Homo sapiens: one gene and its partners. The protein of the gene in region 2 interacts with the protein of the main gene of each other region in a pairwise test. Each region holds a gene or a part of one and is shown on either strand. Other genes may lie near its edges.

Region 1 (2,342 bases), on a different chromosome or scaffold from region 2:
TGCAATCTTGTGTCACTGCAACCTCTGCCTCCTAAGTTAAAGTGATTCTCCTGCCTCAACCTCTCAAGTAGCCTGGGATTACAGGTGTGCACCACCACACCAGGCTAATTTTTGTATTTTTTGTAGAGACAGGGTTTCACCATCTTGGCAAGGCTGGTCTCAAACTCCTGACCTCAAGTGATCCGCCCATCTTGGCCTCCCAAAATGCTGGGATTACAGGCGCAAGCCACTGCGCCCAGCTGTAGCCACTTACTTTTTCTAGTAGGAGGCACTGCCTGCGAGTACAGGAAGTCCTCCTGACTGTCTGCCTTCCTTTTATCCTGCTGTAGACCCATTGACTAGAAGGAGTTCCTGCATAGGTGTGTGTCTGTGTGTGTGTGTGCATGGGTGTATGATCTCTGTGTGTGTGTAGTCCTTCGACAATCTAACCTCATCCTCTCTTACTAAAAGGAAGCCAGGCAATGGGTGTTAGGAGGAAATAAACACTGTAGCCTGGCGAATGCGTTTTTAAGAGCTTTTTATTGGCAACAGTGCAGAACCAAGGGGAGAGGGGACGGCCCATTGCCAATCTGTCCCAGCCCCCCGGGGTCAGATGCAAAATACAAAAAGAGAACCACAAGTACAGCATGGGGTAGGGGGGTCGGGGATTCATTGAATTGTGGTTGGCAGGAGCAAGCCCTGCTCACACTCTCACACTCGCACCCAGAATTGTCAAAGATACAGATTGTAAAAATCTACGATCCCTCAGTCTCACTCACAAAAAATAAAATCTCATGTCCCCAACGAACCCAGAGTCAGACGACAGCTGGAGCATTGGCAGGGACAGTCAGAAAGGAGACAAGTGAAAACGGTCAGATGGACACAGGCGGAGGAGAAAAGACAGAGGGAGAGAGACCATCGGGAACAATCAGAGGGGCCGAGACGATCAGAAAAGGGTCAGCCCGAGACAGGCTGAGCCAGAGTTTCTAGAAGCAGTTTCCAATTCAACGGCTCGCTTTGAGGGCCAACGTGACCTAGGCCGAGGCTGCAGAAGCGCTCACACACTCACGCGCACGCACACACACACATCCATATATAATATATTTACTTATACATAATAGATATAATTGCCTTTCGGAAACCAGGAAAGGGATAAATAGCTAAGGAATGGGTCTGGGATCAGGATGGGAGACGCGCGACAAGGGGCACGTGGAATGTTTTTCATGCAGCACGGATGGAGGGCGGCGTGGTCCACCCCCCGATATTAAAAAATATAAATTTGCCTCATAAAGAAATCCTCATGAGATGAAGCGCAGGGAACGGCGGGGTGGGAGAGCCAAAACCATGGTCAGGGATGGGCGGACTCGGGCATGGAATCATGAGATTCCAGCCCCTTGAGTCTGCCAGTCCAAAAATATTGGGGGTTTGGGGGTACCAAAGCCTCAGCTCTGAAATCTTCTCCGGAAAAATGTCACAGCCCCTCACTCCCTTCCTGGAGAGGATGTGAGGGGCCAAGGGGTGGGAGAAGTTGGCGTCCTAGGCTGGGGATTGGTCGGGGGACCTTAAAGAAAAAGGCCAGGGCTGAGGGTCCTGAGGAGAGAGAGAGAGGCCACGTGGATGGAGGACTGTCACCCCCTTCTCGGTTCTGTCACCCCCTTGAGTCTAACTCACTGTTGAGGGGAGGAAGAAGGGGGATGGACGGAAGGGAGACCGAGGAAAGGCTTTCGGGAGTGGGGACATTATCCCCCCAGAGGTGTGCTGCCCCACCCAGCTGCACCCCACAATCTGGCCAACTCATTTCACAGTATAAATCACTCCAGCAGGACGGCATCACAGCAGCCCCTGCTGCCTGAAATCAGAGCGGCCCAACGAGGAAGGCCAGGAGGGTCGGCTGGCAGGGGGCAGGGTCTTGGGATAACACTGTCATCAGAAACAAGGCTGGGGGCTGATTTCGGGGTGGGGAGCCTTAGGAGGCCAGAAATTCCAATCAGAGCCAGTTTTTCTGGGAGGGAGTGGCTAGACAGTCAAGGAAGGACGTTCACATTTCAAAAGAAGTCGGGTGGGGGGATGAGATTATTCTAGGGGGGCATCGAATTCCCTTTAAGGGGGGGGCTCACTTCTGCCCAGAGTAAAGAGGATCTCACACCATGGAAATGTGGGATCAATAAGCTAAGGTCGGGAGTGCAGGGGAAACCAACCTAGGCACCCCAAAAAAAGGGTGGGTGTGGGAGACATTGGGTAGGGAGTGGCATTTTTCCTTGTTGAGCCTCTCTGGAGAGGACTCCAGCCCACCCCACAGCCTACCTCCCACCCCCGTCCCTTAATCCTCACACAGGACTGCCCGAAGGTGGGCGTCACCCGCC
Region 2 (3,500 bases):
GGTCACAGCTTCTTCTTGGGGCAGTGCTGCAGGGCCGCCCTCAGGGCCTCCGTCACGCGGTCCACATTCTCGCGGGTGGCATTGCAGCCCAGCAGGCCGATCCGCAGCACCTGGGGGGCACAGGGCGGGCTGACGTCAGCCTCCCGCCTGGGACCTGCCTGACCCTGACCGACAGCTGGCCAGAGCCAGGATGGGCTCACCTGAGTGAGGACCACCCACCCAGCGTCCATGAGGGGAGTTGACAGCCCTGTGCAGGTCACAGAGGGGGCCCTTGAGCACCCAGGCCAGGGCAGGCTCTCCTCCCTCTGCACCCGCAGCCACACGGGAGGACAGGGTGGTGCAGTGAAGGTCCCTCCCCACTGCCACTCAGAGACACAGCCAGGCCCAGGCGTGGGGCTTCCGGCCTGGTTCCAGGGTCTGGTCAGAGGGAAGGAAGGATGTTCCGAGTGGAATCATAAAGGCTGCACCTGGTGACCTCAGTGGGCTGGGGTGGGAGCAGGGGCGACAGGATACGCTTTACTGGATACCCCTTGGAGAGTGGGCCCTTCTGGACGCTCCTGCAATCTGGGCTTTCGGATGACCCCGGCCTCCCCTGCACCTGGTGCACAGTCCTGCTCAAGGAGGGGTGGCGGGTTTGGTTTCTGCAAAAGGCCCTCGAGGCGCTCCCTCTCACCTTCCCCGTGGAGGGCCCAAGGCCACCCATGATCTCAATGTCGAAGTGGTCTATGACGTAGCTGACGATGTCTCTCCAGTCATAGCCAGCGGGTACAGCCACAGTGGTGACTGTGGGAAGCCGGAGCGCCTGCAGGAGGGGCCTGGCTCAGTGCGTGGGTGAGAGGCCCTGTACGGGCCTTTGTGACAGCTCTTGGCCTGCACCATCTGCCCCAGCTTCAGGTTCCAGAGGAGCCGGGGGAGAAAGGGCCGGGAGAGAGCAGGGACCCCACCCCTTAGGAGGCGGTGGATGGGCACCTTCCCACTGGGAGATCACAGGCCGTCCTGAGATCCCGCATCAGAGGCCGGGAGCTGTGACTTCGTGGCTCCTGCCGAGACTAATCCCTGGCACCGAGGCCACACCACCGGGCAGCCGCCCCCTCCTTCTCAGGAGCCAGTGTCCCTCTTGAGGGGGCTGGGCAAGAGCCCCTCATCCTTCCCCATGGGTGCAGGGCTGCCCAATGCCAGGGGCCTCCTTACCGGGTCCTTCACGAAGAGCTGCAGCCCCAGTGCCTGCAGGCGCCCATGCAGATACGCCGCGGCCTCGCGGTGCTGGCGCCAGCTGTTCTCCAGGCCCTGTGTGGGAGATGGCGCTGGTGGGCAGTGACATGGGTGGGGTGGGCAGGAAGCCCCGCCCTCTGTGGTGCGGGAGGAAGAACCTGACTCTGCAGGCCTTGGTGCAGGGGAGCCCCTGGAGCCCCCAGTTTGACTTTGCCTGGGGCAGGGCCTGGGACTACCCCAGGGCAGAAGGAAACATCTGGGTCTGGGAGAGACAGAGGAGGGTTCAGAGAGACAGAGGGGAGGTCTGCCTGTGGCCCCTGGGGGAGAAGAGTGGAGAGTGCCTTGCAGGGGGAGGGGACTGGGCAAGGAGGGGAAGGGCTGTTGGGCTACACAGGGCTGGAGTGGATCAGGGCCAGGGCTCAGGGTGCTGGCTCCCAGGCCCCCTCTCCTCTCAGGGCCAGCTCCCCCGACCTGGCATCCTCCGCAGCACTGCTCCTGCCTCAGCTCTGGACAGGTGAGGGGTGGTCTCTCCAGCCCTGGGCCCCTCAGTGCCATTACCTCTGGTCACGGGTCCTCCCGGCCTCCAGCCACCAGCTCTCATGGCCACCCCAGGTGGGTCCCCGGAGCAGCAGCTGCTCTCTACTCTGGCCCTGGCCCGTCTTCTCTGCGCATGTGCCCCTGCAATCTGCACTCTGCCAGGTCCCTGTGCCTCTGCCCTTGACTGTGCCCTGCTGTCTGGTCCTGTTCTCTTCCTTCTCTGCCCAGCTCACACCCCCCACCCACCTTTACGACCCTAGAGCCTTTCCCTGTGTGAGCGCCTGACCCCTCGCCTTCCCCCGCGGGTGCGGGTGGCATTTAGCTTACAGGGGCACCCTGGCACTAACCCAGCCCTAGGCAGTGGCTTTATGAGTGGACCCAGGAGGACAAACGTGGCAGGCACGGCCTTGCAACCTCATGGGAAGCTGGCTGCAGCCCGGGGATCCTTCCTGGACTCTGGACTGGTGGCTGGCAATGGGCCCTGTGGGACACAGGACCCAGATGAAAGTAGGTGGGACTTCCTGTCTCGTGGCCTGCAGAGCTGCTGGGCCTGAGGCCACTCTCAGCCGCCTGTGTCCTGAGAGTGTGGATGTTGCAGTGTCCTGAGAGTGTGGATGTTGCAGTGGCCAAATCAACCCCTGGTCACACCCAAGTGCTCATGCTCAGCTCTTGCCCTGCCATAGGAGCTGGACAAGCCTGCAGGAACTGCCAACCCTCACTTTACATCCACGCCCACCTATCTGTGGGCACATCTCTGGCCCCTTCGGCCTCCCCTTCTCCCAGCCCACCCACTCACTGGGCCTCACTTACTGCTTCACACAGCAATGGAAGGGTTGGGAGCATCCACACCTGCCCCATTGCTGCATCTGTCCCTGGGGCTGTATCCCCCTGGCCCTGCCCGCAGCCAGTGTACCCGGGGCCCTGTCCTCTCTCCCCCACCCCCACTGAGGGCCTCTCTCTGGCAGGCTCCCTTTTCTCTGTGCACCAGGGATGGTTCCTTCTCTGCAGGCCGCGCCCTCGACAATCCAGCCAGTGGCCCTGTCTCCTCCTGTGGAGTGCAGCCCATGCACCTGTTCCGCAATGAGGGCCAGGCTCTCTCTCAGGCTGTACAGGCTGATGACGGGGATTGTGTGATGGTACCTGGAAGACACGAGGGGGCTTGGTCCAGCACCATGGGCAGGGTTGGGGGCAGATGGGGCATTAGCTCTGTCTGCCCCAGCCCCAACAGCACAGGCTCTCTGACCACAGGCCGGTATCCTCCGCAGAGGAGTCCTGTCCGGGTTCAGAACTTTGGACCGGGAAGGCAGCTTCGTCTGCCAGGGAGAGCATGGCTTGTGTAGGGCCCAGCCAGGAGGCAGTGGGTGGCTGCAGGAGCAGAGACACGTGCCACCACCTCCCTGCGGAGCCCCTCAGTCCCAGCGTGCCTGCGAAGCCGGCACTGGCCCTCTGTGCCCACTGGGCTAGGGCACCATTCCTGGCGCCTTGTTCCTGTGTGTAACATAAGGGGCCTTGGGTTTATGGCCAAGGTCGTCTTTTCAGAAGGGGTAAGCTGAGGCCCAGGAGTGGGGAGATGTGGCAGGGCCAGGTCCAAAGTGCCCGAGGGTGTGCTGGGACCTCTGGGGGGACAGTGTTTGTGGAAGCGGCAGTGGGGGCCATGACCCTGCCCAGAGCCTCGGGCCAGTCGAGGAATGGGGGAACCCAGGGTGGGGCATTTGACTGCCTGATGCAGGCGGATTCTGGGGCTCTAGTTG
Region 3 (3,500 bases), on a different chromosome or scaffold from region 2:
AAGTACATATATGTCTACAACATAGGTAACAAAATAATTATCCTAGAGCAAGGTTTTATGTAATTAAGTAATGTAATTTTATGTAATTAAGTAATGTTATCCTAGAATAGAGATAGTTGTGTCAATAAAAAGCACGTAAATTTGATAATGGATTTGCTTTGTGCAAAACTGAATAGGTAGGAATTCCTTTTCTAGAAAAAATAAGATGAAGAATCATGTAACACATTTTCTATACTGTGCAACTAGTAAAATGTAAAAATAATATTTATAATAGAAATTAGCTTGCTCTATCTAACAAGAATTCCTTTGCCTGGAAAAAAAAAGTGTTTTCATAATATGTTACTAAATTGTTAAAACTCAGGTTACAAAGTAGGATATACAGTATCATCCCAAATTTATTTCTTAAAATGTAACCCGAAAAGCCGTAGTAATAAATAAAACAGTAGCTCTTTCTTAATAGTATGATTACAGATGATTTTTACTTAGTGCTTTTCTAAACTTTCTTCAGTGTTTACTGGTATTATTTTTTGAATCAGAAAATATAGCTTTACACTCCTAAGAAACCATAGTCAACACTATAAATGAAAGACAGCAAAGGTGTAAATAGTTCAGAAGTGACTTACTTGACAGCTAGACTTGTTTTTACACCTCTTGTGGATTTCCTCAAAGCACTTCCACACTGCACTGAAACTGGATTTATTTGCTGGTCTTTCTTGGGTCTTTTGTTCTTTCATTCAGTAATTATTGAGCCTCTATTATGTGCCAGGCACTGTTCTAGGCACCGAGGATTTAGCACTGAGTATAATGGATGAAGTCTCTATCCTTCTTTGATATGGAAGACAAAGACTAAAAATTTTTAAACAAAAACATACTTTTAGTGGAGAAACACAAGCACACAACACACACACCTCTACTTTTAAGTGTGATGAAGAAAAGTAAAGGAAAGAGGAGTAGAGCAATAGTAAGGTGGGAAGAGATGATAGTTTTAGTGAAGGGAGCACTCTGAGGAAGTGCTATTTGAGCAGAGACCTGAGTGAAGTACGGGAGTTGGCCAGAGAAAGGTAAGAGAGAACAGTCTAGGTAGGGGGAATATCAAGCAAAGAGGCCTTGAGGTGGCACTAAGCTTGGAATGTGCCAGAATAAGACCAGTGTGGTGAGACTGGAACGAGCAAGGGGAGAGCAGCAGATGGCATGGAAGAGGTGGGTGGGCCCAGGTCATAAGCGCCTTACAGGTCCATGCAGGGATTCTAAATTTATTCTAAAGGTGATACAAAGGTACTGAGGTCTTGAAACAGTGATGGCCTGGACCAAAGCAGTAGGGTAATGGGATGAGACATGGTCAGTATGGATATATTTTGATGGCTGATCCAGTATAACTTGCTGATGGATTAGATATGAGGAATGAGGAAGAAATCATGGACAATTCTTAGGTTCTTGGCCAAAGCAACTAAATGAGTAGTGTGCCATTTACAAATCTGGGGCTGACTGGTGACGAAACAAGTTGTGAGCGGCAAAACTGAGACCTATTTTGGACATGTTAAGTATGAGATGACCATTAGACTTCAAGTCAAGATGTCGGGTGGGCAATCATAATTATAAGTCTGCCATTTGGGGGCAAGTTGGGGCTGAAGGTATAAATCTAATATTTAAAACTATGGAACTAAAAGATATCTCCTAGGTGTTGGGGCAGAGAGAAAAGAGAATAGGGCTGAAAACAGCCCTAAGGCGTGCCAACATTAAGAGGTAGGGAAGTCTATTCACCTCACTAGAGAGACCAGTGAGGCATCCCAGAAGCCAAGTGAAAGTATTTTCAGTAGGAGACAGTGATCCCCTAAGTTAAAGCTGCTGATGAGTAAGTTAAGGATTGAGAAGTAACCATTGGATTTGGTGACTTTGATAAAGGTAGCTTCAGTGGAGTGATGAAAACAAAAAAATTGGTGTACAGTGATCCCTCCTACTCCACAGTTTCATTTTCTGGGGTTTCAGTTATCTGCAGTCAACCAGAGTCCGAAAAATATTAAATGAAAAATTCAAGAAATAATCCGTAAGTTTTTAAATTGCATGCCATTCTGGGTGGCATGAAGAAATCTTACACTGTCACACTCCATCCTGCCCAGGACATGAATCATCTTTGTCCAGTGTACCCAAGTTGTATACGGCAGCTGGCCTCAGTCACTTAGCAGCAGTCTCAGTTATCAGATCAACCCACAATGTTGCAGTACTTGTGCTCAAGCAATCCATATTTTACATAATGGCCCCAAAGTGTGAGAGTGGTGATACTGGCAATTTGAATATGACAAAGAGAAGTCATAAAGTGCTTCCTTTTAATGAAAAGGTGAAAGTTCTCAACTTAGTAAGAAAACAAAAAACAAAAAACAAAAAACTGTATGCTGAGGTTGATAAGATCTACAATAAGAATGAATCTCCTGTCTGTGACACTGTTAACAGTATATAGTTATAATTGTTCTATTAAAAGTTATTGTTGTTAATCTCTTACTGTGCCTAACTTATAAATTAAACTTTATCATAGGTACATATATATAAGAAAAAAACACAGTGTATTAGAAGTCGTTTCAGGCATCTGCTGGGGGTCTTGGAACATATTCCCCATGGATAACGGGGGACTACTCTATGTTCAAGAGAGAGTTAGAAGACCACTAGGTACAGAAGAGTTGACTGCTGTATCCCTACCATCTCGGTAGCTCTTGGTATAGAGTAGGTATTGAATAAATGTCAAATCTGAAAATTCTCAATACTTCAACCCAAATTAAGAAACCCAAAATGGTGGAGAGCTAGAGAGCTTCCTGCTCATCCAGTTCTATTCCTAGCCTCCAGAATGAGTGAGGATGGATTGTAAAAACATGAGCTTTTTTTCTCTTCTTTCTTAATTTGCTGTATATCTAGGGCTAAAACGTAATAAGCATTTTGATTGGTAGCTGAACTAAGAGATACGAGAAACACCTTCTCCTTCTGCTCCCCAATTTTCCTTAAGTTATATGTAACTAAAAGTTAACAAATAAATTATGACCATGTTACCAAGGGGGTTAAAAAAAAAACCACCACCAAAACAGCAGTCAAATATTTTAAATAAAACATCTTATTCCAAAACTTCTGCTGATACCTTAAAGACAGACACTTATTTTGCAAAATAGGTAACTTTCCCTCTTCCCAATTTAGATCTCTTTCCATTTCTCAAAAGTGTAAAGTAAAGCCTTTTGTGGAGAAAAGGCAATGCCCAGATAATGGGTTTCCTACCTGACATAATGTCTTCTGCTAATTCCTTTTCTCTTTCAATTTTTTCCTCTAGAGTTGAAATGCAGAATTCATAGCCAGCAACAGCAAATTCCTGTCTGTAAAGCAAAATCAATAATCAGCCATTTACCTTTTCTTCTTTTTTTTTTCTTCCTTCTGTTGAGATGGAGTTTCGCTCTTGTTGCCCAGGCTGGAGTGCAATGGCGTGACCTCGGCTCAGAGCAACCTCCACCTCCGGGGTTCAAGCG
Region 4 (4,046 bases), on a different chromosome or scaffold from region 2:
CATTTTACTTAAGTCTGAAATGACACTGATATATTTCTATTCCTATACTTTTTACTACTGTCATCAGTACTATAATTATCTAAAACATCCTATACACTTAAAAGATAATGTAATTCTCTATAGATATCTCCAAACATAACATATATACCTTCAACTTTATATTATAAAAATAACTATATAACCTTTGAAAATTTGAAGTAATTCCATTTAATTTGTAACTAAGCATAACTTATATAAATGTAATAAATACATATTTGTGTTACAACTTTCTAAACAGCAATGTAGAAATTAAACTTTTAGATTCCAATCCCAGTTTTCCTAACAGTTCAGTAGGTGATTTTGACTAAAATTTACTTATACCAATTTTATGTATAGTAAGATAATATTTATTATAATGCAGAAACGATGCAATATAGAGTCTGCAGATTAAAATTGGATGAAACCCTTCAAAGATTTGATTTAAAATATCCTAATGTGTACAAGATAAAGGCTAAAGAAAGTATTCCCTGAACAGGTAAAATATCACTCATTTTTTTAATGAAGAACAAAAAAAGACCAAAAACTAAGATCTAGTGTTTCAAAATATGAAATCAATATATGTACATAAAATCAGTTGACATACTAGTTGATAGTGAAAACTGGAATTAATCAGCCAGCTTTTTCACTTTGATTTTCAGTTCTAGTTTATCTATTTAAAAATTATATTTTAATTACATGTACACAATGTTCACATTTCATCTTGCTATTTTGATACTGTTGTAGTCGGCATTGTCTTTGTCTTCAAAATATTAAATCATCCTAGACATAAGTATGATGTTCATTTGGGGTACAAGTTTTTTCTTTGATCTTAACTTATATATATTTATGTATACATTTATTCATAAAAGAAACATATATTTCCACACACTCAATTTAAATGGAAAAAATGGAGTAATCATTCGAAACAGCTCAATAATATATCTGAAATCAAAACACTTTTGCCCCAGTTATCCTGCTGCAAATAGTTGTATCCTAAATATCCCAGATATTTAACTCAATTACTTAACTGCTCTAGTATATTCTTAACTAGTAACCACGACATCAACTTCAATAGTTAAACTCCAACTTTAGATGAATATTTGGCTTATATTTCAAATATTTTGAAAGGGTTCAAGCATATAATCACAAAAAACTACTATATGTAAATTGTAATTTAATATTTAAATAAATAATAAAAATAAAATTTACTAGTTCTTTATCTTGTATTTTTCTAAGGCTCCTTAGATCATACTTTACACAAAATTAGGTTATGTAACTAATCAGTAAATATATAGTCCTTTTTATTAGTTTGTTTTTTACTTGGAATTTGTGAGGAAATTTATGCTCCTATTTCTTCCCACTACGTAGGAAAGTTTAATATAATGCTTTTACTTTAGAGCCGTCTTTCTTTTAGATAGATATTACAAAATGTTCACTCTATGTGGAAATCCTACTGATAAATTCTTGGTTTTAAAAGATTTTCCACAAAATCCAATTTGTAATATTTTATTATTATAAATCATATATGATAGATGGTATAAAAATAGTTGAACTTCTATTTAAGTTAGTATAGATATCTTAACCGATTTTTTCTATGTCTTCTACCTCAAACACAGTTCATCTTATGGAGTATACACTATTTTTAATTTGCCCTCTTTTGAATAAAGGCAGTGTTAAGATCCTTCCTCATTTTAAGTTGTTTTTAAGAATCATATTTTATAATCTCAAAAACTATCAAACAACAAATATGTAAGGACTGAACTGATTGCATATTAAGCCAGTAAGTCATAAAAACGTTCATTAATGCTTACATTTGAAGAAAATATGGTTTTAGTCAATAAGGAACAACGTAATGTGGTTTTCATTTGTATTGCAAATCCTTCACCAGTACTTGTATAAGTCTCTATACTAAAAATTCAGTGAAAAAAATTCTGGGTTAAATTCTAATTGGTTTTTTAAACTTTCCCAAAAAGTTTGAGGAAGAAGTAAATTGTGAAAATCAAAGATCCTGAAGACGCTGGCTGTTAAAACGTCAACAGGTGCTTCAGTGTACCCTGCGGGCGAGTCTCACCACTGCAGCGTGAGCTGTGTCTGCTTCTTTTTATCCTTCACAATCTGCGTGATGGTTTTCTTCTGAGACAGGTATTGATCCGCTGCTTTGGTTTTGCTGTCGTGGTTGTCGGCGTCCTCTTCTTCAGAGGAAAAGTTACCATTGTTTAAGTGCATTTCTGATTGCCAGTTGAAGGGATGATAAAGAAAAATAGAATATAAAATCAACTAAGTCGCCTTTAAGTGTACCTTAACTTCAAAGGAGTAGCCTACTGGGGTGGGGGCGGAGGGGAGGAAAGGGGGGCTATGCAAAATGTCAGGTCTCTACTTGACATTTTACTGAGGAAATACAAAGATTTGGACAGAACATTCTATATCTGCCTTATGTTTGTTCGGGATGCATTATTATTATTGGGTGCCCTTCTTAGAATACGTCCCCGTCCCCTTCCCAGCTCCGGATGCGGCAGAGCACTCACCTGATTTCACTGCCCCCGGCAGCTCCGGGTCTTCGCCTTTCTCCCCGCCGCCCTGCTCGCCCCCGGGCTGCCCTTCGGCCGCCAGGTACACTGTTTCTTCCGGATAGACTAGCAAGCCCTTGCCCAGGAGCTGCACACAGCAGTCTTCCTGGATCCCCGGGGACAGTTGGGGCGCAGGCTGCGCCTGCAGGAAGGTGTCTTCCAGCTCCGGGACCTTGGCCATCCTCCTGGCCGCCGGACACCTCCGCGCGCGCCGCTCGGCCGGTTCCCCAGCGGAGCCCCAGCCCGGGGCGGGGCGGGGCGGGGCTGGGACCCGGGGCCGCAGGGGCGGGGAAGGAGGCCGCAGGCTCCGGGGTGCCCTGGCTCAGCGCAGAAAGGACGCCGCGCACAGGTACAGCCCAGGCCGCCCGGGAGCCGCGGTGGGCCGCGGTGGGACTGCGTTTCTCCACCTGTCTGCGGTCCCGGCAGATGCTCCCGCGAAACTCACTTTCTCACCTGCGCCTGTCACGCCCTGGGCGCCCACAGCTTCCCCCTCCTTCCCGTTCTCTCAACCTGCGCTGGCCGGAGGACCGTTTTCACACTCAGAGCTCCCAGAAAGATCCCGGGAAGGCTCACTGTCTTCTGCAGGGAAAGTGCAGCTGTAACTGGCCCCATCCCTACTTTCAGGTACACTATTGGGGCACCTGGCCGCGCGGCGTGGACTCTGCACGCCTGGGACAGGGAAAAAGTACACCGGAGTACCGCTCAGTCTTTGCACAGCAGGGACCGGGCTTTTTATTCTGGGAACCTTCCGAGGGATTGGCGAGGGCTCTTCTCAGCATTTGAGGGAAGATCCCATCTCGTCACACACTGCTTTGCTCGAGGGTGCACAGTGGCCCGCACTCCTGGGTCTCCCAGCCCTGGAGGATCTGGCCTCAACCCCGAGAAAAGATTCTTTCTCTCCCATTTACCATTATTTTGTAATTTAAACGCGTCCCTGACGATTACTCATCTCATACCTAGCAGTACGGCAACGGACGTTTGCTTAAGTGAAAAATGAAATTGCGACCATCTTCCAACCCAAAATGGCAATCTCATGGGGGCAAACTATAATCTGTGCTCTCTTTAGACGGGAGCGGTCAGTGGAGACTTGGGATTGGTGTTACCTGACTGCCAGATCATCTTCCTTTCCTTCCACCTTCTGTTCTTTTGACAAATACGCCCAGTGTCTTTATATGTCCAGTGCTCTCCAACAAAAGCAAGGATTCTGCTTTGGATCACATTGCCTCATCACAACCTACAGCATGTCATCTTCTCTTGCAGCATTAGAGAGAGAAATCAGCCTTCGACTTTGACAATATTAAACTACATTACATTGAAATTTAACATAGAACAAACAAAATGGGATCCAAGGTGGTGGGTGGCTGAAGGGTGAATTATGGGAAGGAGCGATACAGTCTAAGTAATACAGCAAAAGCAGCTAAAATTATGAGTGGATTTGAATCTCCCCATTTTTAGTACCAC
Region 5 (2,263 bases), on a different chromosome or scaffold from region 2:
TATTCCTACATGCTCACATATTTTTTCTAAGTGAAATTTTATTTTCCAACAGAACAAGAGACAAACAGCTGACTTTGGCTTTCTTTCTGAGAGCCCCCAATCACATACATTCAGAAGAGTCATAGCCCCAGGCCACTCTCCGGGCAAGTGCTTTCTGCTGTGCTCCAAAGCTTATGGGGTTAGAGGTCAAATATCAAGTCCAGCCTGCCACAGATTTGTGGCTGGGTCTCTGCGCACAGTTTCCTTAAGAAGCTGTGCACCTGACTTGGTTGGGCAAATGAGCATGTGAGCACATGAATAAGGAAAACAGTAATCTCAAATGCATCCGAATAAACCTCAGGGCTGAATTTTAACAACCTTCCTGCTTGCTAGGTGTATTTTCTAGCTTATACTTCCCCAACAAGAGTTTGTTGACTGCCTACTACCTAAGCTGCACACTAGAATCAGATGGTGCTTGAAAAATGACTGTGGGACTGGAAAAGACAGAATCCAAGGGAAGATCGAGTCATCATAAAAACGTTTTATTAATCAAATATATTTACATTTCTTGGTCAATGATCTCTAAATGTGTACCTGTTTTTTCATTTAAATACAACTTAATCCTGGTAGATTCCATCACAAGAATACAGCAGCATGCATGATCTCATTGGTCCTTTGCAGTTATTTTTTCATTAAATAATGTGAGTTTAATAAAGTTAGAAAACTTTATTAAGTTTTACCCATTCTTACTGTGGGATAATCATTCTTGTCATATCAGTGGCCCTTACAGCAAACTACACACTCCTTATCACCCACAGTGAGATTCTTCTCATTCTCTTAACTGACTTGTTTAAGCTTTCCAAACTCCAAAAGGCAGATGTGAAACTGGGCATTCACTCTAACCATTTTATTTGGTGGAAAGTTGGAGAGAGACATATTTCTATTCCAGTAGGGAACATTTACAGTCCTAAACTTAAAATAACCACATTAAAGAAATGTATACAATGTCCTAATAGCATCTAAATATCACACTTCTATTAGCATCCTACAGAACTGGATGTCTTCCCCTTGATATAAAAAAAATAATTAACTTGGGACATTAAGTTTCCAAAATAATTTTGCTGATCTGAGCCAAAGTTTTCCTTAATTCGTTAGTCATCACCTTAGCCTCTGCATTTAAACTGGGGGAAGGCTTTTTCATGAAATACTTAGAACTGCTAAGGAGAATAATTTTGCCTCTGGCTTTTGCTATACATTTTCTCCAGGTTGGGAGAAACTAGAGAAGTGTACTAGATTGTTCAGAGAAAGTAAGTCTACAAGTGCTGATTTTGTTAACATTAGACAATGCCCACATGTGGATCAACAGGGACTGTGGGTTGGCAGACTTTTGCTCTAAGATGGCTGCTTTCCCCAACATGTGGCAATCACCTGATACGGCATAATTGCTTTTAAACATGAAAGAGTTGTGCTGTAGAAATAGATCTCCAGCTTGTTAAAGTTTATATCTAGACTGTTTTCAGTTGGGAGTGATGTACCAAAGTGGGAGAAAGGCACCAACAAGGATGTTTTTCAAGGCAGGAAACAGGAGATATCAACCAGGACCCACCATGTTTGACAAGGAAAATATATTTATCATTTCAACAAACAAATGTGCCCATTAGAATCAGAATCTGGAGGAAAGTAGTATACATTGTGGTTTCAATAAACCACGGTAAAGAGTTGTAATAAAGCCAGTTCATGATGAAATTTTGTACACTTACTTTTTGAACAAACCTCACAGTTTCATCTAGATTGTGCCCCAGAACTTGAACTGGTTCCTTGAGTACCTCATGCATGTAACTACACTATCTGTGCCTTTGACAAACCAAACCTATAATGACTCCAGTCTTTCTGCTGCACTGCTTTAAACCAACAGGCTAACAACATAAGCCCATATTCTTAATGCACACAACTGCGTAATGACTCCATTGATGCCTGGAAAGTAACTCACTTAGCATTCAGTCAGAACAAAGAAAGAAAACGAGATTTCACTTAGCCCCGTTGAGGATGTGTTTTTACCTGTCGATAGTGTTCGAACCTTATTCTCTTCTGGCCACCCTCCAACACAACCTGCCCTTCCTGCCTGTTGCCATTTGTCCTAATGTATATCACACTTGAGAGGGTTATTTTTTTTTCTTTCAATGTGGAATTTTAGATTCCTGCTTAGAAAAACAAAAACAATGCCTGACAGCAATGGAATAGTTGAAATTCTGTCCAGCAATGAGATTTGGGCATGACAAAATCA
Region 6 (3,500 bases), on a different chromosome or scaffold from region 2:
GGCTAGAGTGCAGTGGTATGATCTCAGCTCACTGCAACCTCCGCCTCCTGGGTTCAAGCAATTCTCCTGTATCAGCCTCCCAAGTAGCTGGGATTACAGGCGCATGCCACCATGCCTGGCTTATTTTTCTATTTTTAGTGGAGATGGGGTTTCGCCATGTTGGCTAGGCTGGTTTCAAACTCCTGACCTCAAGCAATCCACCTGCCTTGGCCTCCCAAAGTGCTGGGATTACAGGCATAAGCCACCGCGCCCGGGCTATTTTTTAAAAAAGCATTATTAGGCTGGGCACAGTTGCTCATGCCTGTAATCCCAGCACTTTGGGAGGCTGAGGCAGGTGGATCACGAGGCCAGGAGTTCAAGACCAACCTGACCAATATTGCGAAACCCCGTCTCCACTAAAAACACAAAAATTAGCTGGGCATGGTGGCGTGTGCCCGTAGTCCCAACTACTTGGGAGGCTGAGGCAGGAGAACCACTTGAACCCGGGAGGCGGGGGTTGCAGTGAGCCAAGATCATGCCACTGCATTCCAGCTTGGGCAACAGAGTGAGACTCTGTCTCAAAAAAAAAAACAAACACAAAAAATTATTATACTTGATTTAGGATCATTCTTGCTGTTCCATCCTCCCAGCCCTAATTCTTCTCGGGGCACATTTTATTTCAGCTTCTCCCTCTGTCATGGTATACACACACAGACTGCCTTTCCTTCCCCTCTATGGTTTTTTCAAATACCCGGCACAGGGAAGACAAAAATCATTGGTTTGAATTCTGCTCAAAAATCCTTCTCCTGGCCAGGCATGGTAGCTCATGCCTGTAATCCCAGCACTTTGGGAGGCTAAGGCAGGTGGATTATTTGAGGTCAGGAGTTCGAGACTAGCCTGGCCAACATGGTGAGACCTCGTCTCTACTAAAAATACAAAAATTAGCTGGGCATGGTGGCACACGCCTGTAATCCCAGCTACTTGGGAGACCGAGGCAGGAGAATCGTTTGAACCCCAGAGACAGAGGTTGCAGTGAGCCAAGATCCCACCACTGCGCTCCTGCCTGGGCAACAGAAAGAAACTCCATCTCAAAACAAAACAAACAAAAAGTATATTCCTAAGGGCTCCTAAGAAACATAAAAGAAGGGCCTAGTTTCCATCTTCTTTTTTTTTTTTAAGATAGGATCTCACTTTGTTGCCCAGGCTGCAGTGCAGTGGCGCTATCATGGCTCACTGCAACCTCAAACTCCTGGGCTCAAACTGATCTTGCCTCAGCCTCCTAAGCAGCTGAGGCTACAGATGCATGCCACCACACCTGGCTAATTTTTTAAAAATTTTTTGTAGAGACAGGGTCTTGCTGTGTTACCCAGGTTGGTCTTGAACTCCTGGCCTCAAGTGATTCTCTCATCTCAGTCTCTCAAAGTGTTGAGATTACAGACATGAGCCACTGCCGCTCGGCCCTGGTTTCCATCTTACTCAGTATAGATATAACATGAAGTCAGACTTACTGAGGTATTCCAAAGAAGTCTCTGCAGAAGCTGCATGCATTATGATCCTACCAGCATTTTTAGCAGCCAAAGGCACAGTGGAAGTTTAGTTCCACCAGCAGGCATTGGGAGCACACAAGAGTCACAAGTGCCAATGCCAAATGTGATCATCTACCAGCAGCTAATTTTGAAGATCTGTCTAATTTCCTTGCAATTGTAGGCCTCTTAAAGAGGCTCAGATGCATTTGCTCTTGAATCCTATTGTGACTTGTGAGGTAGGAGGCGACCTATAATACAGTTTGCCTCTCACAAGTGTGAGGACTAAGAAGTGATGACAGAAGACAGGAGTCCCAGGTCTCACGCTGAGATGGGGAGGAAACGTAATACAACCTTTTCATGTATTTCTCCCCCTTTCCCTCCACCCAGTCATCGCAGCTCTCAAATTTGAATTTGTCCACTAACTTTCCATCCTTGCTGCCATCACCCAAATCCAAGCCTTCTTCAACCTGGATCAGTCTTCCTGCTCTCTCTCCCTCCAGCCCTGAAACCAGAGGGCTTTTATTGGAACACTACAGTCCATCACTGCAATTGGGAAACTTCTAAGAAAATACAAATCAGATCACATCACTAAACTCCAGACTCCATAGGAGATTTCAGGGCCTCTGTAGCCTGTTCCCAGCCTGTCCCTCCAGCTCCACTGCTCCCCTGCCCACCAGGCCATCTACACTTCAACACTGAACTTGTCCTTTCTTGAGCAACACATGCTTTCTCACCAAACTTCTGCAAATGCTAGATCCCTGCCTCCACCTTATCCTCACAGAATGATCTAGATTATATAACCTAGAAAGGAGGTCTCCTTTCTTAAGAACTGAGAAAAAATAGTGCTTGCTATGAGTTCACTGTGATTTGATTTTTTACAATACACTGGAACTACAGACCCTTGAGTAGGCTCATCTCTGAAACTATCAGCAGTGTAACAGAGCAGAAAGATCATCCAGAGACTGCTGTCTATCCCAGAAGGGCAGCGAGCTAGTCTCCAGATGTCAAACTCTCCCATCACTGCTGCTTTTCTCCAAGTCAAATCCACCCAAACAAGCACTCCTGAGGACTGGCTGATGCTTCCAGGCAAAGGACAATGAAAGAAATGCCAAGTGAAAAATGATGGAATCGGGGTACTAGAAACCAGGCAAAGCAAGGAAAATGGATGCAATCTGCTAGCTTTTCTCTATCATTCATATCTTTAATCCTTTATGTAAATAGAAAGCACGGGCACGAATGGCAGAGCATCACCCAAAGAGCAAAGGTCAGGGAAGAATATGGCTACAGTGCTTGGCAGGGGAACCAAGCTGCCTTACTGGAGAAGTTTCCTAGCATTTATCTAGAACATATAAATAAAGAGCATAGGGAAAAAAAAAGTGCTGGAATGAATAAGATAGCAAATAATCACAGCTGCAAAAGGTATATGATAAAATACCAAAAGGATCTTGCTATGATTTGTTTGCTTTTGCCTAATAATCTTAGTAGGTTTTTAAAAGCTGCGTTTCAAGACTGTGCATATTTTGGGGGAATAGCAACAGAACAGGAACGAAAATGTAGTGAACACGAGGGAAAAAAACTCTTTTAACATTTTCCTTAAGAAGAATCAACACATACTGATTTACCTCAGTCGTTCTACTGGTTTCACTGGTATACACAGATCCTAATCTAATTTTTTTGGTTGGATTAGACAAGTTAGAGATAGAAGAACATCTTGAACTAAAGGCCTTTGCAGCCTGATTACCTATTATCTGTAATGTATTTTATGCTCCACAATGTTCGTGGTTTTTTCCTCCCCTATACTTTCAAACCAATGGTTAAACCAGATGCTTAAGCCAGACTATTAATCAACTTGTGTAGAAGCAAACCCATTTACACATAGGCAGTAAGACAGCTTTGCTATAGAAACCTCACAAAATGTATTTCTCAACTAAATAATAAGAAAATGGCATAAAATCTCAATAAGCCACTGTCTTAGAGAAATGGCTTATTCAATGA
Region 7 (4,143 bases), on a different chromosome or scaffold from region 2:
CCTTCCTGTCATCATCCTCAGGGCTCTGGGGAAAAACACTGGGTGGGTGTGATGTCGTGGCCCCTCGCCTTACCCTTTTCTGCCCTGTCTCATCACTCAGCGTTGTTCACTGAGCTTCATCATTTGCTTTGCAGTAGACAGCACCACTAGTTGCTATACCAATGGGCTCACAACAGCCCCTTGCCCAGGAGCACTCACCATGTGAGTGTGTGAAGTGTGTGGTGTGACCGCCGTTTAAAAGATGAGGAATAAGAAACTCAGAGAGGTTAAGGACCTTGCTCCAGGTATTACAGCCACTAAGTGGGTGAGTGGGAAGTGGAACTCAGGTCTGTTGGTCTCCAAATCAACGTTCATAAACCTCTAGCCCACAGGGCGTGTGCCTGGAAGAGCTGTGGTGTCAATGTCGTCCATCTGAGACTGGAAAGCTGGGTGGGGGTGGGGGGCGGTGGAGAGATCTGCTATCTGGAACTTGCTGTTTGCCAGTCCTTATACCACCACACATGAAAGGTACTTTTGATACTGCATGCAAATCATGATTACACTTACAACTAATTGCAGCCACATAACTCTACCAACACACCAAATGATCTTAAACCCCACTGACAGTGTACTCATTTGAACAATGCTTGGCTGACATTTTGTTTCAGAAGTCAGCAAATTTTTTATGTGTCTTGAAAGCTGTTAGCTATATGTAAGATTTAACCAAATTCAGTCAAATCCCTCAATAGTGATCATGAAACAGGCAGGCGGAAAAATGCACTGACCATGGTAAAAACACTTCAATCAGCTATAGAAAACATGAAAAAGGAGAGCAGTATTTGCTTTCTAGAACCCCATGAGAAGACACCACCAAGCGGGAAAAATACCACACTTACAGAGTTTAAGAGCCAAGAGGTACAAACAAGGAAAACTACTCAGTTATTAATATTCACGGAATGCAAATATTAATAACACAAAAAAGGATATTTTCAGTTATCATTTGATCTCATCTTGTATTCCACATAAGACACACATCTTCCCAAGTTACTGCAGGTAAGAAGTTTCAGATATGCAAGAATATAAAGGCATAAAAAGGAGAGGAATAAATAACATACATAGCAAATAGAAGCTTAAGGGAACAAAGTATGATAATACAGTCTTCTAGAGAGGCAAAGAAGTCTTGATAAACAAAACCAGAACATTACAGGGGAACATGTGGTTAGAAGACAGCTCTTTAGCTTTAGAATCACACAGATCCTAGTTTTGTCTCTTAGTGTCAACATGGTCTTGTGTAAATGGTTTAAATTCTCTAAATTTTCAGTTTTCTCATTTATTGTAAGCATAATTCATTCATTCTTTCAATATGTATTAACTGAGCACCTACCATGTGCCAGACACTGTTCTAGACACTGGGGATACAAGCCCTAAACAAAGGGTCAGTGAACTCTGCAGACTTGGTGCTAACAGCCTAATGCTTAGGATTGGGATGCGATGAAATGAGATTTTGTCCTAAAGCTCCCAGCATACAGTATGCCCTCAAGAAGTTACCTGCCTTTGTTGAAGTTGCTACTTTAAAAAAAAATGTATTCTGCATAGTGCTTCTCATGCCTCTTTGCTCTCTGTAATCAAAAAGTCACTAGCACAAGAAAGCAGCCTGCATACTGCCCTCGGGGAGCTGACTCTAAACTGGACTCATCACCATGATCACACCTGCCAACCCAGCAGAAACATTTAATCAAGACAGAAAGAGGTGAGCGAAAGTTAGAGATAGTATTATGTTATTAACCATATCTGATTCAGTCTCAAAAATCCTGAGAGGTTGATGTTACTATATTCATTTTACAGATGGGGAAATGGACGGTCCGAGAGGTTAAACAAATTGCTCAAGGCTGCTCAGCCTGTGTGTGGCAAAGCCCAGGCCCAAACTCAGATCTCTGTGACACTCCAGCGACACCTGATGACATGGGCCGGGCGCTGAATTGGGAAGGTGGGGAGTAAGGATGAAAAGACCCAGTCTTCGTCGTAAGGCAGGTGGCCAAGACCCAGGCAAAGTTTCCAGACGGCCGTCCCTGTGGCCAACCTGGTCTCCTTCCTGACTGCGCCGCTGTAAACGTTGCTAGGGGACAGCGAACTGGGAAGGGGCAAAGGGTTTCCACCAGCTGGGGGCGGAGTCGGCCCTTTGTGGGTTCCCTCCGCCCAGGCTGACTAGTCCGGCGTTCTCCATTCCCGCGGCAGCACCCCCCCCACCCGGGGGAATCCTGGAGGGGCTACAGGCGCGGGTGGTGGGGTGGCAGTCGCTGGCTGCGCCAGGATGGGGCGGCCCTCAGGGCAGTGCGGAGCCCACGTGCCGGGGAGCACCGGCCATGCCCGGCCCAGCCAGGCGTCGGCGCCCTCGGGCTTCTTCCCCCAGAGGGCGCAGGAGCTGGCTCAGGAGCCATTCCAGGAGCCGCGGACACTGTGCGCACGACAGGGTCCCTGGATCGCCCCCATTCCCCAACATCCCTACGCCCCTACCTCTGCTTGTCTCCGGCCGCACCCGCCACCTCTGCACCTCCGCAGTCACCACCACGGAACTCCAGCACCCACCTCCTCGCCCCCCGCGGCGCGCCGGTCCCCGCACCCCACGGCCCTCCCTGAGCCTCTCGCCCTCTACCTGCTGCTGCGGCTGCGGCTGCGGCTGGTTCCCGGGCGCCGCGACGCTCCTCTGCAGGACGCTGCCGGCGGCCGGGAGCCCTTGCGACATGCCGGGCGCTCCTCTGGCCCGGCCCGCCCCGCCCCGCCCGCGCGCCCTGCCCGTGGGGCTGCCTACGGGCGCTGTCCCGCCGCCGGCATCCTCGTGCCGCACCCACGGCCTCGCGCCGGCCCCGCCCCCTCAGGCTTCCCGCTCTCCCCGCTACTCCACGCGTCGGCCCAGTGTCCCCGCGCGCCAGTCCCGGCAGCCGTCCTTCCCGTCCCACGTCTGCCCCGCCCTCCTTCTCCCACCCCCGCCTCGTTTCCTCCTCTGCCCGCCCTCTCTCCGCACCTCGGGGTCCCAAATCCCACCCCTGCCGCGGCTTTCCGCCGGCGCCCCGCGCTTCGTGGAAGTCACGTGGTGGCTCTGAAACCCCGGAGGGAACGCGAAGCCCACCCACGCGAGGCGACGCCCGGGGGGGTGGGGACCAGGGGGGCGCCATGCAGCCTTTGGGGTCCTTCGGCGGCTGCCGGGGAACTCAGGTTGAGAAACACAGTGGGTGTTTTGGGGTCGGTGTTTTTTCCCGGTCCCATCGCGGCATCTTCCTGCGCCTCAGCCACGCCCTGCGTCCGCCCCCCGGCGCGGGGGTCACAGTCCCGGGGGACTTTCTCCGCGGCGATCAGTCATCCGGGCGCCACTCTCGCTCCTCCAGCGGCCCCGAAGCCGCGGCTCTGGGGTGAAGACGCCGGCTTCACCGAGTCCCACCGCGCACCCCGAGCCACGGGCGCCCCAGGGACTCTGCAGGGAGTGCCTGCCCTTCCCGTCTCGGGTCCGCCGGGCTGTGGGAGGGAACGAGGCGGGGCGGCCCCGAGGGTGAATTCCCGGAGCGGAGGGTGGGCATGGGGAGGATGTCCCGGACAAAAACGGTGACGGGCTTCCCTGAGAGCGAATCTGCCACGTGGGACGTCACTAGTGACAGGTTTGGGGATCTGGACCCGCCATGCCACGGTTAAACGGCCCAGATCATTTTTCTTTTTCAAGATTTATCTGCTCGTGCCAAGCTGGGGACCGGGTTGAGGTAGGGCAAGTCCCTGTCCACCTGCCTGCCAGTCAAAAGATGCGAAGCCAAGACAATTACCCGTGGTCCTAGCGAAGGAAACACTAGCGGCCACAGGCTGTGGTCTGCATGCTGTGAGCACCGGGAAAGATAACCGCGATTCGGGATGGGCGGGTGGGAACCAGACCAGAAGGGCAGAAGTGCCTACCAAGTGTGGTCGCTTGGGTCTTCAGGTTTGTGGGCAGCAGTGGGCATGGGGACAGTCATTTCCGATTCCTTTTTAAGTCTTAAATGAGTGCACGTGCCCCCCGCCAGGATTTAAGACCCACTCTTGCAAAAGCTTTGAGAGAGCTTGAGTGAACTTGGCTGCCTGGAGGCCAGCGGGAAAGCGAGCGGAGATTCTTGTCTGTGTGATCAGAAGCTTCGGCCAACTGAG

What was found.
Region 1: the proteins of AGXT (region 2) and FOSB interact in binary tests that used the Homo sapiens proteins (3 or more experiments, as listed by UniProt).
Region 3: the proteins of AGXT (region 2) and TTC19 interact in binary tests that used the Homo sapiens proteins (3 or more experiments, as listed by UniProt).
Region 4: the proteins of AGXT (region 2) and RFX6 interact in binary tests that used the Homo sapiens proteins (3 or more experiments, as listed by UniProt).
Region 5: the proteins of AGXT (region 2) and PRDM6 interact in binary tests that used the Homo sapiens proteins (3 or more experiments, as listed by UniProt).
Region 6: the proteins of AGXT (region 2) and FNTB interact in binary tests that used the Homo sapiens proteins (3 or more experiments, as listed by UniProt).
Region 7: the proteins of AGXT (region 2) and BATF3 interact in binary tests that used the Homo sapiens proteins (3 or more experiments, as listed by UniProt).

What each region holds. Positions count from the first base shown.
Region 1 is NC_000019.10:45,473,338-45,475,679, reverse strand, and holds the end of FOSB (protein FosB), read right to left. Parts: 3' UTR 501-2,342; downstream 1-500. UniProt on the Homo sapiens protein: Heterodimerizes with proteins of the JUN family to form an AP-1 transcription factor complex, thereby enhancing their DNA binding activity to gene promoters containing an AP-1 consensus sequence 5'-TGA[GC]TCA-3' and enhancing their transcriptional activity.
Region 2 is NC_000002.12:240,875,324-240,878,823, reverse strand, and holds part of AGXT (alanine--glyoxylate aminotransferase), read right to left. Parts: intron 2,890-3,500; coding exon 2,820-2,889; intron 1,288-2,819; coding exon 1,192-1,287; intron 803-1,191; coding exon 674-802; intron 111-673; coding exon 3-110; 3' UTR 1-2. UniProt on the Homo sapiens protein: Peroxisomal aminotransferase that catalyzes the transamination of glyoxylate to glycine and contributes to the glyoxylate detoxification.
Region 3 is NC_000017.11:16,006,324-16,009,823, reverse strand, and holds part of TTC19 (tetratricopeptide repeat protein 19, mitochondrial isoform 1 precursor), read right to left. Parts: intron 3,351-3,500; coding exon 3,256-3,350; intron 847-3,255; coding exon of another isoform or gene 818-846; exon of another isoform or gene 760-817; intron 1-759. UniProt on the Homo sapiens protein: Required for the preservation of the structural and functional integrity of mitochondrial respiratory complex III by allowing the physiological turnover of the Rieske protein UQCRFS1.
Region 4 is NC_000006.12:116,875,996-116,880,041, reverse strand, and holds the start of RFX6 (DNA-binding protein RFX6), read right to left. Parts: upstream 2,801-4,046; 5' UTR 2,767-2,800; coding exon 2,544-2,766; intron 2,247-2,543; coding exon 2,090-2,246; intron 2,080-2,089; exon of another isoform or gene 1,832-2,079; coding exon of another isoform or gene 1,830-1,831; intron 1-1,829. UniProt on the Homo sapiens protein: Transcription factor required to direct islet cell differentiation during endocrine pancreas development. Specifically required for the differentiation of 4 of the 5 islet cell types and for the production of insulin.
Region 5 is NC_000005.10:123,192,504-123,194,766, reverse strand, and holds the end of PRDM6 (putative histone-lysine N-methyltransferase PRDM6), read right to left. Parts: 3' UTR 501-2,263; downstream 1-500. UniProt on the Homo sapiens protein: Putative histone methyltransferase that acts as a transcriptional repressor of smooth muscle gene expression.
Region 6 is NC_000014.9:65,028,395-65,031,894, reverse strand, and holds part of FNTB (protein farnesyltransferase subunit beta), read right to left. Parts: intron 1-3,500. UniProt on the Homo sapiens protein: Essential subunit of the farnesyltransferase complex. Catalyzes the transfer of a farnesyl moiety from farnesyl diphosphate to a cysteine at the fourth position from the C-terminus of several proteins having the C-terminal sequence Cys-aliphatic-aliphatic-X.
Region 7 is NC_000001.11:212,697,041-212,701,183, forward strand, and holds the start of BATF3 (basic leucine zipper transcriptional factor ATF-like 3), read right to left. Parts: upstream 2,801-4,143; 5' UTR 2,723-2,800; coding exon 2,633-2,722; intron 26-2,632; coding exon 1-25. UniProt on the Homo sapiens protein: AP-1 family transcription factor that controls the differentiation of CD8(+) thymic conventional dendritic cells in the immune system.